Regions from separate parts of the Homo sapiens genome. Here region 1 is linked to region 2. The links come from fine-mapping of genetic effects on gene expression. A gene starts in region 2. The other region holds a variant in brackets. All regions are shown on one strand. Distances are between the middles of the regions.

The links. PIP is the estimated chance that this variant, and not a neighbour inherited with it, causes the effect. A credible set is the group of variants that fine-mapping cannot tell apart.
Region 1: its variant is the best candidate, but not a certain one, in a credible set for the expression of FAM53C in whole blood (TOPMed, PIP 0.58).

What each region holds. Positions count from the first base shown.
Region 1 is chr5:138,279,674-138,288,001 of GRCh38, reverse strand. CDC25C (cell division cycle 25C) reads left to right here. Exons shown (of 14, transcript NM_001790.5): 11 at 735-833; 12 at 1,372-1,505; 13 at 1,869-1,980; 14 at 2,161-2,733. The coding sequence ends at 2,310. Among named protein-coding and RNA genes, the nearest start is that of GFRA3, 9.2 kb to the right of the region's middle. The variant G/A (reference allele first, on the strand shown) is at 3,996.
Region 2 is chr5:138,334,259-138,342,586 of GRCh38, reverse strand. FAM53C (family with sequence similarity 53 member C) reads right to left here and starts at 4,321. Exons shown (of 5, transcript NM_016605.3): 1 at 4,280-4,321; 2 at 1,174-1,403; 3 at 721-778. The coding sequence starts at 1,251. It overlaps LOC100128966 (a long non-coding RNA gene), which reads right to left. Exons shown (of 4, transcript NR_146628.1): 3 at 7,102-7,202; 4 at 5,441-5,713. It also overlaps a transcript of CDC25C not described here. RefSeq lists silencers at 3,872-3,961, 4,012-4,361 and enhancers at 4,442-4,921, 5,092-5,171.

The DNA.
Region 1 (8,328 bases), 55 kb after region 2:
CTATATTATCATTTTAATGGCTATATAATGCCGCTCTATTCTACTGACATGTACAATTTATTTTACCAAACCCCTATTATTGAATATTGAAGTTATTTCTAATATATTGATAATATAAAACAATGCTGAGATGAATATAATTGTGCCTACATCTTTGTGTACTTTTCCTGTTTACTTAAGATGTTAGAAATTGCTGAGTCAAAGTGTGATTACATTTATTTGTATATGTATTTACAAAGTTCCCTTCAGAAAGGCTGAACCAATTTGCACTCCTACAAGTAGCTTCAGTTTCTTCCTTCCTTTAGGTATCAACCTTTCCCTTCCATATCCTTTCCTGAAAGACTTACTTTCTTCCTTTTTGATGGTGGGTAGGGAACCATTTTGCATTTCTTCCTGCAATTTCAAGCTCTCTAGCTGCTGCCTCTGCCACTGCAGAAGTCCTTGGGCATCTCCTGAGTCCAGCCATGCCTATCCCCAGATGGGTAGCCTGAATATGGTTTTCCTTGGTATCTTGTCAGTGCCAGCTATTTTGGTTCTCTAAAAGGGCCACTTCCTGTTTCATTCTCTTTTGTGGAGTGGGGCTGAATCATTGCCACATATCAAATATGGGGTGACTTTGGAGGCTGGACATACAGTGGACAGAACAGGAGTATGCTTGTAAGGAACTGTGTCATTGACCCTTCTCTCCCTCAGAGTGGCAGTGAGCAGAATATTCAGTCATTGTTTCTGTCCAGGTGGCTGCCTTACTGTCGGGGAAGTTCCAGGGTCTGATTGAGAAGTTTTATGTCATTGATTGTCGCTATCCATATGAGTATCTGGGAGGACACATCCAGGTGAGACGACATTGTGGCCATTAGTAGGGGAGGGCTGGAGATAACTCTTTATTGAGAAGAGTCTGTGGACAAAGGGGTCTATGAACTCTAGAGTCAGGACAAAGATTACATATTTGAAGCACCTCAAGGCTGAGGTCCTCATTGTTTTAATTCTGTATACCTTAAGCAGGTTACTTTCCCTTTCCCTCCTAGATCTATCTCCCTCTTTTCTGTAGGAGCCAAGGGGTCCTACCTAGAAATAAAAACATTAATCCAAGGACTGAAGCACTTTGCAAACACTTACTATTCATGAACATTCCTCGCAGTGATCTCTATACTTCCAGTGGTTCAGGTCTATAAACATTTATTGACCATCTACAAGCTCTATGCCAGGCGTTCAGGGTATATACAGAGATATACTTAGACCCCTGCCCTAAAGGTGCTTATAGTCCAGCTTTTCTGGTCCACATTATCCCAGGTTGGCGTCTCAGTCATTTCTAAGTATTGGCACTGTCTATAAGCCCCTGAGGAAATACTTACTAAAATTCTTCTTCTACAGGGAGCCTTAAACTTATATAGTCAGGAAGAACTGTTTAACTTCTTTCTGAAGAAGCCCATCGTCCCTTTGGACACCCAGAAGAGAATAATCATCGTGTTCCACTGTGAATTCTCCTCAGAGAGGGGCCCCCGAATGTGAGTGTCTAAATGGGGTCTGGCGGGTGATGGAAATGGATTTTGAGTTGGACTTCCCACACCAGTTCAGACAGAGACTGACTGGATTCTACAGTTTGAAGAATGTTAGGGAGGTTGAAGGAAGACGTTTCTAAAATTGAAAAGTTTGAAACAATAAAGGAAAAGGGATTGAGAATGAGGCTGCAGTGGAGGAAAGGAGGAAGGGTGGTACTACTTGGACCTTTTTTTGCAAACACAGGGAGATTGGAAAGTCCTTTTTGAGGTTGGCAATAGTCTACTCCTCTCCCCCCTCCCCAGTGAATGGCCCCTGGGATCCTGACCTTGTTTCTTTCCACCCCACCCATCTCTGGGTTCTCTCTAAAGGTGCCGCTGTCTGCGTGAAGAGGACAGGTCTCTGAACCAGTATCCTGCATTGTACTACCCAGAGCTATATATCCTTAAAGGCGGCTACAGAGACTTCTTTCCAGAATATATGGTAAAGGGTGGGGCATGCGGGGAGCCAAACTTTAACAACTCAACTCCCAGGGCCTGCAAAGCCTTCAGAGAAGAAACTGCTGCTCCTCCTTAGCCACTGCCAGCAGCAGCATCTCTATTATCCTTCATAGGTAGAGTTCAGGAGTCTAGAGAATCCCTTACTCTGTTCCTTACCTTTCAGGAACTGTGTGAACCACAGAGCTACTGCCCTATGCATCATCAGGACCACAAGACTGAGTTGCTGAGGTGTCGAAGCCAGAGCAAAGTGCAGGAAGGGGAGCGGCAGCTGCGGGAGCAGATTGCCCTTCTGGTGAAGGACATGAGCCCATGATAACATTCCAGCCACTGGCTGCTAACAAGTCACCAAAAGACACTGCAGAAACCCTGAGCAGAAAGAGGCCTTCTGGATGGCCAAACCCAAGATTATTAAAAGATGTCTCTGCAAACCAACAGGCTACCAACTTGTATCCAGGCCTGGGAATGGATTAGGTTTCAGCAGAGCTGAAAGCTGGTGGCAGAGTCCTGGAGCTGGCTCTATAAGGCAGCCTTGAGTTGCATAGAGATTTGTATTGGTTCAGGGAACTCTGGCATTCCTTTTCCCAACTCCTCATGTCTTCTCACAAGCCAGCCAACTCTTTCTCTCTGGGCTTCGGGCTATGCAAGAGCGTTGTCTACCTTCTTTCTTTGTATTTTCCTTCTTTGTTTCCCCCTCTTTCTTTTTTAAAAATGGAAAAATAAACACTACAGAATGAGAGGTGTGATTGTGAGCCTAGCCTGCTCCTAGAAGATCTGTCTACAGAGGAGATCACCAAGTTAGACTACTTCAGACATACTATCTTTATTCATAGCTGAGGCCAACATGCTTTTCTCTAAACCAGTAATTCTTAGGCCGTGGCTCACACCTGTAATCCTGGCACTTTGGGAGGCCGAGGCGGGTGGATCACTTCAGGTCAGGAGTTCGAGGCCAACATGGTGAGACCCTATCTCTACTAAAAATACAAAAATTAGCCAGGCATGGTGGCGTGTGCCTGTAGTCCCAGCTACTCAGGAAGCTGATGCAGGAGAATCGCTTGAACTCAGGAGGTGAAGGTTGCAATGAGATCGTGCCACCGCACTCCAGCCTGGGCAACAGAGAGAGACTGTCTCAAAAAACAAATACCAAACAACCAGTAATTCTCAAAGTTTGGACCCTAGATCATCAACATCATCTGAACTTGTTTGAAATACAGATGTTCAGGCCTCACCCCAGACCTCTTAAATCAGAACTTGTGAGGTTAGGGCACAGAAATCTGGGTTTTAAAAATCTCCCTTTTCAGTTAATTCTAATACATGGTAAGGCTTAAGAACCAGTGCTCAGTAATCCCAGCACTTTGGGAGGCCAAGGCAGGCAGATCACTTGACGTCAGAAGTTCGAGACCAGCCTGACCAACATGGTGAAACCCCATCTCTACTAAAAAAAATACAAAAATTAACCAGGCATGGTGGCACACACCTGTAATCCCAGCTACTAGGGTGGCTGAGGCAGGAGAATTGCATGAACTCAGGAGGTGGAGGTTGCAGTGAGCCAAAATCCACTGCACTCTAGCCTGGGCAACAGAGTAAGACTCCATCTCAAAAAAAAAATGAACCAATGCTCTGGAATTAAGGTAAGCCTTTCAAACAGTTTTCTTCAGCAATGTCCTGGGCTTTCCTTTCCTAGATCATTCCATGGTATGCGTTACTAAAAGTGCACCACAGACTCAGCAGCATGTGGTATCTAGACATTCTCTAAGGCAAATGACAGATCTCAGCTGGGCTCAAAGGTTCCCTCTTGGCAGTGGCTCACACCTGTAATCCCAGCACTTTGGGAGGCTGAGGCTGGCGGAACACCTGAGGTCAGGAGTTCAAGACCACCCTGGCTAACATGGCAAAACCTCGTCTATACTAAAAATACAAAAATTAGCCAGGCATCGTGGTGGCTGCCTGTAATCCCAGCTATTCGGGAGACTGAGGCAGGATAATCACTTCAACTTGGGA[G/A]GCAGATGTTGCAGTGAACAAGATTTTTCACTGCACTCCGGCCTGGGTGTCAAAGCAAGACTCCATCTCAAAAAAAAAAAAAAAAAGTTCCCTATCTATAGCCTTAGGGGGGTTTTGACTTTTAAGTCTTTTCTCCACTCCATTTCACGTCTCACAAAGACAAGTTTTAGGATTTAGGATGGTTGGAAGTAGAGATTTGTGATATATGAAGATAGGAATAAAACAAAGCAAGATCCATTAGACTTCAGGAAGATTTTTTAACTGTACTCTTCTGCAGTATGCCAGGGTTTCCTTTCTTGGAGCTTTTTAATATGAATAGGCCTTTATCTGTAGTAAGGTGTGGCACTACTTGGTCTTGGGTGGCAGTAGAACTGACTGAACATTGTCATTCTCTGGTATTAACCTAGTAGGACTGATAGCCCAGGACGGAACAGGACGAAGCCCTCTACAGCCTAGGCTGAGACAGAACAGAGACAAACATACCCTCTTCCCAGGCTCTGGAACAGAGACACTTTTTTAAAGTGAGTGGGAGGGAAGGGGGGTTGTAGCCATAGGGCGGCCCATGCACGTGCCTGAGTGGTTGGACTGGCTTTTAATTTTTTTATTTGACAAGGTTTGCACATGCTCTTGCCCTAGAGTGTCACATGCATGCTTCACAGCAGAGGGCACTGCTGTTTTCTCCAAGCCATCCTGCTGAAGTCTGTAGCTTCCATTCCTAGCTACTGCCTGTCTGTCAAAAAGGAAGCTGTCTCTGTGGCCTTCTCCCTAATCCCTTGAACTCAAAGCCCAGAAGGTCTAGGGGAAAGAGAAAAGCTGCTGCTACGTTAGGTGGAGATGGCCAAAGGAAAGATGCTGCTCCTCTGCCCCACCCACACACGTGCCCCTATAGGAATTCCTAGTAGCCAGAAAAGAAAACTGCTTGAAGCACCTCTTCGAAGTGTGAGGAGAGGTCCTTAACTCACTGCCTACCCTAGTGGGTCATTTCCATTTCCTGATAATTCTCCCCAGAAGGCTAGAACCAAGTCCCAACATAGATAGAGATTGATGTACATGTGCCCACTAGTCAGTAGTCTTAAGTGGAAAATCTGAGTTGCAAAACAAAACACTAAGGCTTAATTATCTTCCTCATGGAAAATTGTATTTTCACCCAAGTCAACATTTTTTGGTATTTTTTATTTTATTTTATTTTATTTGAGACAGAGTCTTGCTCTGTCACCAGGCTGAAGTGCAGTGGCGCGATCTCAGCTCACTGCAACCTCCACCTCCCGGGTTCAAGCAATTCTCCTGCCTCAGCCTCCCGAGTAGCTGGGATTACAGGCATGCACCACCACGCCTGGCTAATTTTTGTATTTTTAGTAGAGACAGGGTTTCACCATGTTGGTCAGGCTAGTCTTGAACTCCTGACCTCGTGATCCACCCACATCGGCCTCCCAAAGTGCTGGGATTACAGGCGTGAGCCACCACGCCTGGCCTAATATAAGCCCACTGATTTCTTGTAATATCCTCTCATTGTATAGGGACTATATGATTTGATTCATGTTATTTTCAGGAATAACAATAGTAGCTAACATTTTTCAGGTGCTTACTGTATACAAGGCTATCTCTAAACTCATATATATATATATATATATATATATATATATATATATATATAAACTCCTATATAAATACACACTAATTTAATTTTCACAAGCCTGTGAAAGAGGTATTCATTATTATGAGCATTTCTTTATGAAGATAAAGAAATTGAGGAACAGAGGGATTAACTCTTTTTTATTTTATTTTATTTTTTTTTGAGACAGGGTCTCACTTGTTGCCCAGGCTGGAGTGCAGTGGTACAATCTCAGCTCACTGAAACTTCCACCTCCTAGGCTCAAGCAATCCTCTCACCTCAGCTTCCCAAGTAGCTGGGACTACAGGCATCTGCCACCACACCTGGATAATTTTTGTATTTTTTTCTTTTCTTTTTTTTTTTTTTTTTTTTTGAGACGGAGTCTCACTCTGTCGCCCAGGCTGGAGTGCAGTGGCGTGAACTCGGCTCACTGTAAGCTCCGCCTCCTGGGTTCACACCATTCTCCTGCCTCAGCCTCCCGAGTAGCTGGGACTACAGGCACCCACCACCATGCCCGGCTAATTTTTTTTTTATTTTTTAGTTAAGACGGGGTTTCACCATGTTAGCCAGGATGGTCTTGATCTCCTGACCTCATGATCCGCCCACCTCGGCCTCCCAAAGTGCTGGGATTACAGGCGTGAGCCACCGCGCCTGGCCTGCATTTTTTTTTCTAATTTGAATTTTTTTTTTTTTTTTGGAGACACAGTCTCGCTCTGTTAACAACCTGGAGTGTAGTGGCGCGATCTCGGCTCACTGCAACCTCTGCCTCCCAGGTTCAAGCGATTCTGCCTCAGCCTCCTGAGTAGCTGGGACTACTGGCATGTACCACCATGCCCGGCTAATTTTTTGTATCTTTAGTAGAGAAGGGGTTTCACCATGTTGGCCAGGCTGGTCTCGAACTCCTGGCCTCATGATCCATCGGCCTCAGCCTCCCAAAGTGCTGGGATTACAGTTGTGAGCCACCGCACCCAGCCCTCTCCCTTCTAACTTTCATGGAGGCAATCTGAGCTCTAGTCTTCAATTGGAGCCTCCCAAAGTGCTGAGATTACAGGCGTGAGCCACTGCACCTAGTCAAGTAATAAGATCTCAAAGCTAATTAATGGTGGAGTAGGGATTTGACCCAAGACAGTATGGCTCCAGAGCCTGTCCACTTCATGGATTTTGCTGTTACCAAACCTTCATCAAAGAACAGTGTGCCTGGCCAGGTGCAGTGACTCACATCTGTAATCCTAGCACTTTAAGAGGCCAAAGTGGGAGGATCCCTTGAGACCAGGAGTTTAAGACCAGCCTGGGCAACATAGCAAGACCCCATCTCTATAGAATAAAAATCAACTTAGCTGGGCATGGTGGTGCACACTTGTAGTCATAGCTACTGGGGAGGGTCAGGCAGGAGGATGGCTTCAGCCCAGGAGGTTGAGGTTGCATTGAACTATGATCCATCCACTATACTCTAGCCTGGATGACAGCAAGACCCTGTCTAAAAAAAAAAAACCACTGTGCCTTTCCAGAGTTGGCCCTGTATTGGGTGTTAAATCTATAAGAGCCTCAATGGTAAGCTCTTGAGAATTTAGGGCCATAAGGGTTGCTTTGGCTTGAGAGATAAGGATATGAGCAGGCACTAAAACCCCAGCCCAGAGACCTCAGTATGAGGCTATGTAGGGGGTGTGCTCGGCATTGGTGTCCTTGCACTGGTATTTATTCATCAGGAGGTAAAGAAATATTGAACAGAAATGTTTTGAGCTAAAAACTGCTTCTCGAGGCTGGGCGCTGTGGCTCATGCCTATAATCCCAACACTTTGGGAGCCTGAGGAGGGTGGATCACCTGAGGTCAAGAGTTTGAGAGGAGCCTGGCCAATGTGGTGAAACCCCATCTCTACTAAAAATACAAACAGGCCAGGCATGATGGCTCACACCTGTAATCCCAGCACTTTGGGAGGCCAAGGTGGGCAGATCACGAGGTCAGGAGATCGAGACCATCCTGGCCAACATGGTGAAACCCCGTCTTTATTAAAAATACCCAGCTACTCGGGAGGCTGAGGCAGGAGAAGTGCTTGAACCCAGGAAGTGGAGGTTGCAGTGAGCCAAGATTGGGCCACTGCACTCCAGCCTGGTGACGGAGACTCTGTCTCAAAAAAAAAAAAAAAAAAAATTAGCCAGGAGTAGTGGCAGGCACCTGTAATTCCAGCTACCAGGAGGCTGAGGCAGGAGAATCACTTGAACCTGGGAGGTGGAGGTTGCAGTGAGCTAAGATCACACCATTGCACTCCAGCCTGGGTGACAACAGCAAGACTCTGTATCAAAAACAAACAAAAACCTGCTTCTTGGGCTAGGTGCGGTGGCTTAAGCCTATAATCCCAGTACTTTGGGAGGCTGAGGTGGGAGGATTGCTTGAATCCAGGAGTTTGAGACCAGCCTGGGCAATATAGTCAGACCTCTGTCTCTACAGAAAATTTAAGAATTAGCCAGGTGCAGTGGTGCATGTCTGTAGTCCCAGCTACTCAGGAGGCTGAGGTGGGAGGATTGCTTGAACCCGGGAGGTGGAGGTTGCAGTGAGCTGAGATTGCACCACTGCACTCCAACCTAAGTGACAGAGGGAGACTCTGTCTCAAAAAATATACATAAATTTTTTTTTTGCAATTGCTTCTTGTCAATCTCAGCCCAGGACCTGGGTGACCTCTGCCATAGAGAAGGGAATGTATTAAGCCATTCTTCCTTTGCTAT
Region 2 (8,328 bases):
CCTGGCTAATTTTATATTTTTAGTAGAGATGGGGTTTCTCCATGTTGGTCAGGCTGGTCTTGAACTCCCGACCTCAGGTGATCTGCCCACCTTGGCCTCCCAAAGTGCTGGGATTATAGGTGTGACCCACTAGGCCCGGTCCCATTTTTTTTTTTAAAGGTACAAAATAATATATAGTATGCAACCTTTTGTGTTAAAAACGTGGAAATAAAATAGATGCAGCTAACCACCATGGCACATGTACACCTATGTAACGAACCTGCACGTTCTGCACATGTATCCGAGAACTTAAAAAAGAAAGGAAATAAATATATACATTTGCTTCTTTTTATATAAAGAAATTCTAGTCACATATACTGTATAAGAAACTAATACTTTTAGGGAGGTGGTAGAAGCTGGGTAGATAGGGAACGGGAGAGTAAGAGAGACTTTTCTCAGCATAACCTTTTTGTTGTTATTTTTTAAATTTTGAACCATGTGAATGTATTACCTATTCAAAAAATTAGATTATACAAGTCCCCACAAAGCTAGAATAAGAGCAAACCAACCAGATAACTTTCATGCTAGAACATGAAAGACAACTGTCAATCTCAGAAGTTGACCCTGGCAAGAAGGTTCTAGAGGTAGGCTCGCTAGCCCTGGTCACTGGAAACCAATGATAGAAATGTGTGGAGAGAGGAATGGGTACACACACGTACACAAACACACACGATGCCTTACCAGACACAAGCTGGAAAGAGTTCCCACAGTTGGAGATGTCTGCATGATCAGGCAAAGGCTAAGAAAGAGAGAATATCCATCATGATTTGGATTCAGGACACACTGACAGATTTCTAGGAAGCCCTCTTCAGTTCTCCTCTGCGATTCATGAGCTACAGGGATGTTAGGGACATTAAGTGTTCTTCCTCTTGTCTTCCCAAAGTTAGTAAGTCAAACAATCCACATCTTCCAACATCTCAAACCCTTCTCCACCCAAGTTTTGCTGTCCCTTCTCTATCGGTGGAAAAATCCCTGCCCCCTTCCTTTTGGGCTGGGTTTTGAGCCATTAGTGGGCTCTTCCAGGTTAAGTACCATGATTCATACAGCACAGGACAAGAGTAAAGTAATAGCAACAATCAGCCTCAGAAAAAAGGGGGAGGGGGTCGTGGAGAAGCAGGAAGACTGGTCTTTTACCAGACTGATGCTGAAGCGTGTGCATTTCAGCTCATCCAGAGTCTGCTTCTGTAGCTGCTCAGTGATCAGGGTTATCATGATTCTCCCCAGGATTTGACTTGCACACTTTGGAGCAAATGATGGATGTCTTCCCTGTTGTTCTTCCAGACCTCACTTGTGAGCCGTCTTCTGCCACTGCAGCACCATTCTAGCACCATTGGGACTTCCCTCTCCAGTCATGCCTGCTGAGTCTGCCAATTAGAGGGACCAGCCCCAAGTGATATTAGAGATGCACCTGGTCCAGAGATGGAAAATGCATGGCACACATACCACAGCACCCCTAAGCCAGGCCTCTGGCAGACATCAATTGATCACAGCTCTTTCCAGCTAAGCCTAAACACAGCTTCAGAAATTATGAACTTGGCAGTCCAGATATGAAATAAAATAGAGTTGGCAATCAAGTTGAAACTTATTTGCTACCCTTAAACTGGTTCATGCTCTGTTGTTTCTAACTGGAATACCAGCACCACTTAGAAAACAGCTGCTCAAGTGAGAGAGAGGGATGCCCAAATGATTATTTCCATCAAGATCAGCCCAGTATTTTATCTTCCAGTCAGAAGTGAAAAGAGGTACCCTTCTCCTAAACTACAGAAATAGTAATAAGAGAACAAGGAAGAACAGTGGTTGTAGGCAAGACTTTCTGCTTTAGACCTGAGTACATAGGATTTTATGTCCTCCCACAGCCTAAACATCTGATATATTATTGTTTTCCAATAGATACAGTGTTTGTTTTCTTATCAAATGGGAAGATAAAGAAATGGTCAGGGTAATTCCAATACATTTCAACTCTACAGACGTCGTAAACAACAACTCCATGACTGTTCAACTAAGTTTTTAGCCTCATCTGATGCAAAGTCCATGGATACAGTTAACCAAGATTCTTTCTCGTGGTCAACTTCTGATAGAAGCAAACTAACTGTATCAGATAACAGGCTTCAAGCCCACACAATTACCTGAGGGGCCTTGCTCAAGGGAAAAGGGGAGGTTAAGCCAGTGTCTTGATTTTGTTCTATCTATTCCCGGAAATGAGCAGCAAGCTGACAGCTTACCAGAGAATGTGTGTAGCATTAGCTAGTCAAGAGAACAAATCATCAAGAAATCTAATTATTAATCCAATTTGCTAAGAGTTTTGACAAATCATTTAATACTCCTTGGCCTCAGTTTACCCATATGTAAAGTGGGCAGAATAATCTTAACCTGTCACAGGAACAATATAACATATTAAAATGTACAAAATGTACCATCTGACCTATAAAAATCAGGAGTCCACACAGACTACCATTTCTCGTTCCCGTTTGTGAATCTTCAAGGCCTCAGAATGTCAGAAGTAATGAAATCAATAAGATGAAGAAGGCAATAGGGTCCATCTCTCTGGCTGAATACCATCCTCCCTCACCTGCACACTAAGAAAAGCCCAAGAGGGCTCTTCCTTCTGTGACCTTGGGGGCAGATCACTCTACAAAAAAGAGGAATTATCTCTACCCCACTCACACCTTAGAAGGAGGGCACAAGGAAGAGCAAAGAGATAAACCTGGATGTACCTGGAGTTCTCTGGAAGAAAGGTGCAAGAGAAGTCAATCATCATTACAGTTAACTATCATTTTCATGCATAATTATTACCACCCTGAACAAAATTCTAGCTTCCGGGGAGCTCTCTTCAGCTGCTTCCCCTATATTCTTACGGGAGAAGCTAAAGCTTATATCACTTCTGCTCTTGGTTTCTTAACTCTGCTGCCCTCAAAGATCAACCAGAGAGGGAACCTAAGTGCAGGATTTTACCCTAGAGACCCCAGGCCTCAGGCTAACCAGCTATGAGGAGCAGGGAATGAAGCAAACTCTCCAGCTTTTCATGAGGCATTTGGACAAACAGCAAACTCCCAGCCACCTCTAGGATCAAGTCAAGACAGTGAATTTGTGTTTTTCTGCATTTTAATTGTTGGGATGTGGCCACACACAGTGGTAATTGGAACAATGCAACTACCACCACGCAACTGATACTCTCAGCCTGAGTTTCCTAAAACAGGCCAGGCTGCGAGGGGGAACAGAACGGAAGCCATAAGGAATCAAACCAGGACACAAAAGAAGGCAAACCAGCTCCGCGAGGGGCCTCCTCTTTCTCAAGCAGGCATTGAAAAAAGTGTAAGAAGCCCTCTCTTGCCGCCTTCCTTCCCCTTCCATTTTGTGTATCTGAAGGGTAGAGACAGCCCTGAATATTCACTAAACAAGTTAAAACTTCTCAGTTTAACAACTGGCACGGGGCTCAGCCCTTCACAGAGCAGCAGGCCGCTAGGCCCTCTCAGCAACCCCACCAGACCTAACTCTCAGTCCAGGCTTTCCCTCCACCAGCAGCCCCCAAAAATAAAGATCAGACCCCCACCCCATCTCCTATTGGATGGCAGTAACCCCTGACACTCCTGTTTCAGGGATGCTGAGGTTGTGCTGTACCAAGACAAGGTAGGATCAGGTCAGGCCAACAGGGAGGAGAGTCACAAACCCTTTGGGGACCTTCCCCTCAGGTCCCAGCCCCACACCTCCTGGGGAGACTGAAGAAAAACATGAGGAAGGCAGGGAGCTGCATGAACAGGTAGGTGGAGATCTGCCTGCTCTTCTTCCATATGGTTCTGGTGGGGAAAGGGGTGACAAGTGGGGAACACCCCTCCCCCCACCCCCATGAAGAAGCAAAAGGCTAGGCCCCTCCAATCTTCAACCTCTCCCTCTGTTGCCCTGCCTGTCCCCGCGGGGTGGGGCATGGGGCGTCCGCTGGTCCCCGGGGCGGGGGGGGGGGTGCGCCAGGGCTCGCTCAGGGGGGCTGTCGTTCGCCTCTTCCCACTAGGTTCCATCATCTGGCCGCGGGAAGCGAACTCAGGACGCAGGGGATGGGGAGGGTCTGGGACTTAGCACTCCGCCACCCCCTCCCCCACCGGGTCCCGTGCTCTCCCCGCAGAGGCGGCCAGCGAGGCCCGGCCGCGCGGGCGGTCGGGCTGGGGGAGGGGAAAGAGGGAAGGAGGGAGGGACGGTTGAGGTGCCCGCCCCGAGGCCCCAGCGCCACCTGCCCTCCACCACCTACCGCGGTTCCTCCAGCTCCCAGGGCCGCGGCCGGAGCAGCTCTGAGCGCTCGGTTCGCCCCACGGTGCCCTTAAAAGGCGCTGGCGCGAACCAACGAGTCCCTGAGGAGAGTAGGGGGACAGCTCCGGCTCGCAGAATCCCCCCAAGCCACCCATGGAGGGCGCAGCTCCGTGTCGTGTCTCTCTCAAAGTGTCTCTCGGACAGCGCTGTTGGGAACGAGCCTGGCGCTTTGATTTAGGGATGGGGGTGGTTTCCTCACTAACGAGTCACCCCCTCCAAAATATCGCAGAAAGTGGACGGCCCCAGTTGGAGGCACATCTTGAAACCCGCGGGGGAGGCCATGTCGGAAGAAGGTAAACAAAGGCATCGCCCCTGCCCTCCCTCCCTCCAACGGCCCAACTGCAGCCTCCCACTCGGTTCGGGCCGCGTCACGCAATTAGCCACAGTGCCCCTCACCTGCTCTGCTGCCCCGCCCTCCACGACCACCTCTTCGAAGGAATCCCCCTTCCCCCAGCAAAGGACCCGTCCGCGGCGTGAAGGCTGCTGGGAAGTGTGGTCCAAGCGCGGATTAGGGCCTGCTCGGAGTCCCAGGAGCCCCTCTTGCAGCTGCCGGATCGGCCTGAACCTTAAAAACCCAGGACTTATAATGGTTGCGGGGACGTTTCCACTTGGTTCTGTAATTTGCCCTCACCCAGAACACTTTGTAAAGCTCAGGATAGCCCAGGGCTGTTCACTCCCTCTCTTCTCTCTCCGCCCCCTCCCCCCCAGCAGGATGAGGTAATGGGATTGTGATTATGACATCATAGGCGGTTCAGTTGCTTGCGTTTGCCTGGGGGGAGGTGCGGGGAGGTGGGGAGAAGTGCGGTGGTTAGACTTTCCTTAAACAGAAAGGGAAGGAGGAAACAGGCAGATGGGGAAAAGATGTTGACGGCGCTATATTTCCACTTCAGGAAGACAAAACCACCTTTTATTAAGTCTCCACCACTACCACCACCTCCCACATGAGCCAAAATTTAAGTCTTTTTTAAAGAGATTGAATGTAGACGTTAGTGTGTGAAGAGGTTGGGTTGATGGTTTCTGGCTCTTATGTAAATTCGAGTCTCAGCTAGCATCACAGATGGTTTAGGGAGACAAGCAAAAAAGTGGATAAAGGAGAGGCTTTAAACAATGCGTTCGTGTTGTGATCTCTTTGTAATACAAAGTTTTCTATTTCTTTTTTTTAATTGATTGGAAAGTAGCAGTAATGCAAGTAATCTTCACTATTACACTTAGCAGCAAGTCCTCTGAAAGACATCTGTTTTCTGTAAATATTTTGTGCCTTACTCAAGACTGGGACAGGTAAATAGCTGTGATCAGCTGGAAAGTAGAGCCAGTGGCGGGGGTCGTCCTCACTGAGCCAGGGAGGGGAGGAGGCAGGAGCCACCAAGTCTACAAACTGAAAAAGAGTAGAGGAAAAATGAGGTACAGTACTAACTGAGAAAATAGGGGTGGAAAGATTTACCTTGCACTGCTTATTTCCCCTTGGCAAAAGGAGCAGAGTTAGGGGCCATGAAGTAGGGGACACATGGTTTCCAATAATTGCTCTTATGTACCAGACACCATGCTACATTTTTTTTTTTTTGTAAAAACAGGGTCTTGCTGTTGCTCAGGCTGGAGTGCACTGAGGCGATCACAGCTCACTGCAGCCTTGAACTTCTGGGCTCAAGCAATCCTTTCCATCTCAGCCTCCTGAATAGCTAGAACTACAGGGGTGTGCCACCATGCCCAGCATATTTATTTCTATTTTTGTAGAGAGAGGCGTCTTGCTATGTTGCCCAGGGTAGTCTCAAACTCCTGGCCTCAAACAATCTTCCCATCTTGGCCTCACAAAGTGCTGGGATTGGCGTGGTGTCTCACACCTGTAATCCTAGCACTTTGGGAGGCTGAGGCAGACGGATCACCTGAGGTCAGGAGTTCGAGACCAGCCTGGCAACAAAGTGAAACCCCGTCTCTACTAAAAAATACAAAAATTAGCTGGGCATTGTGGCGCCCATCTGTAATCCCAGCTACTCGGGAGGCTGAGGCAGGAGAATCGCTTGAACCGGGGAGGCAGAGATTGCAGTGAGCCGAGATTGTGCCACTGCACTCCAGCCTGGGCAACAGAATGAGACTCTGTCTCAAAAAAAAAAAAAAACAAATGAACAAAAAACGAAGTGCTGGGATTCCAGGTGTGAACCACCACACTTGACCTACATACTTTGATATATATTCTCATTTTTTCTTACAATCATCAAATGAAACAAAACCTTCTCTTTGACAAATGAAACAGCCCAAGAAGTTAAGTGACTGCCCACATGGTAGGCAAAGGTACTCTCAAAAAGCAGTCTAAAAGCCCTTGCTTTTCACCACTAAGCTGTTCACCTTTTTATTATTAATTAAATTAATAATTTAATTATTATGAATTAAATGGTTGAGTTAAAAGTAGGCATTGGCTCATTTGCAAAACATTGAAAGAAACTGAGACCCAAAACAAAACAAAAAAAACAAAACAAAAAAAAAAACCCTGCAAGTCAAGTTTCAGGCCTCATTTCAAAGGAAGGTTACATCCCCTTTCGTCATCTATAAAATGGCCTCCCAGTGCAGCCCAACACTCCTACCCATAATTAAATCTCCTTATTCCACTTTTAGTTCCCAAGGATTTTTTACTCATGTCCTGCTCTTTCCCTGCTGCCCCCTTTTTAGTCTTTTGTTCTTGAGCCACTGCTTTGAACTGCATCTTAATTATGCCCTCATGGGCCAAACCCCATCTGTGACCCTGCTCCAGTGGGTTTCAGCAAAGGATACTCTCCATCCATATTCTGAGGGCTCCAGGGCCTGGAGCCAGTCATCCAGGAGGTCATCCAAAGGAGTGGAATCCATTGGTTCTAAGACTCTTCATTCCCTGCCTAGGAAGGAACAGCCGAGTTGGAGGAACATGCACTCGATTCAGACCTTCCCTTTTCACCCAGTGAAAGCTAAACCTCTGCAAAGTGGGGAGAAGTAGGGCTAAGCCTACCAGTCATAAAAAGAACCAGGAATAGAAAACACACCCCTCAGCCCCTCTGCCCTGCAGAGGCTGGCTGGGAGGATCCCAGGAATGCAGGGCTCTTCTCCACTGCCTGATCTGGGCATCCCAGGAGTGATGGCTGTACCTCCTGTTCTTGTTTGGTGTTTCAGGGTGAAGCCCGGGCTGTCACTGTGCCCTGGCAACAACATGTATGAGTCAGACTGAGGTCAAGGTGAAGGAACACAGCTCACTGCTTATCACAGTGAATCAGGAGCCTAGATAGGGATTCCCCAAGGATGACATAGGATCAATGCCCTCAATCCAACAGAAAAAGTAAATCTTCAAATCAGATTAAACACCAAACTTCCCACCTCCCTAATATTCTTTCTTCTGGGAAGGATAACTTAGATATATTCCAACACCCTCATAAATCAAGATATAAAAGACAATATTTGACTTCCCTTTAAAATAATTCTACCATTTCACAGTTTGTATGTATGCATGTAAACTTACATGTAATTAGCTAAGTATGTTGCAATTAGCTAAGCCAGCTGGAATCATGAGGAGATAGTGAAAATGTTTGCTAGGAAAACAACCTCATTAACAAACGTAGAGCTTTTAAGAGTTTTGTTGGCTGGGCATGGTGGCTCACACCTGTAATCCCAGCACTTTGGGAGGCCGAGGTGGGTGGATTACCTCAGGTCAGGAGTTTGAGACCAGCCTGGCCAACACAGCGAAACCCTGTCTCAACTAAAAATACAAAAATTAGCCAGGTGTGGTGGCGCATGCCTGTAATCCCAGCTACTCAGGAGGCTGAGGCAAGAGAATCACTTGAACAGAGGTTGCAGTGAGCTGAGATTGCGCCATTGCACTCCAGCCTAGGCAACAAGAAAGAAACTGTCTCAAAAAAAAAAAGTTTTTTTGTTGTTGTTTTTAGGAGACAGTCTCACTATGTTGCCCAGGCTGGCCTCAAACTCCTGGGCTCAAGTGATCCTCCCAAGTAGCTGGGACTACAGGCGCACCAC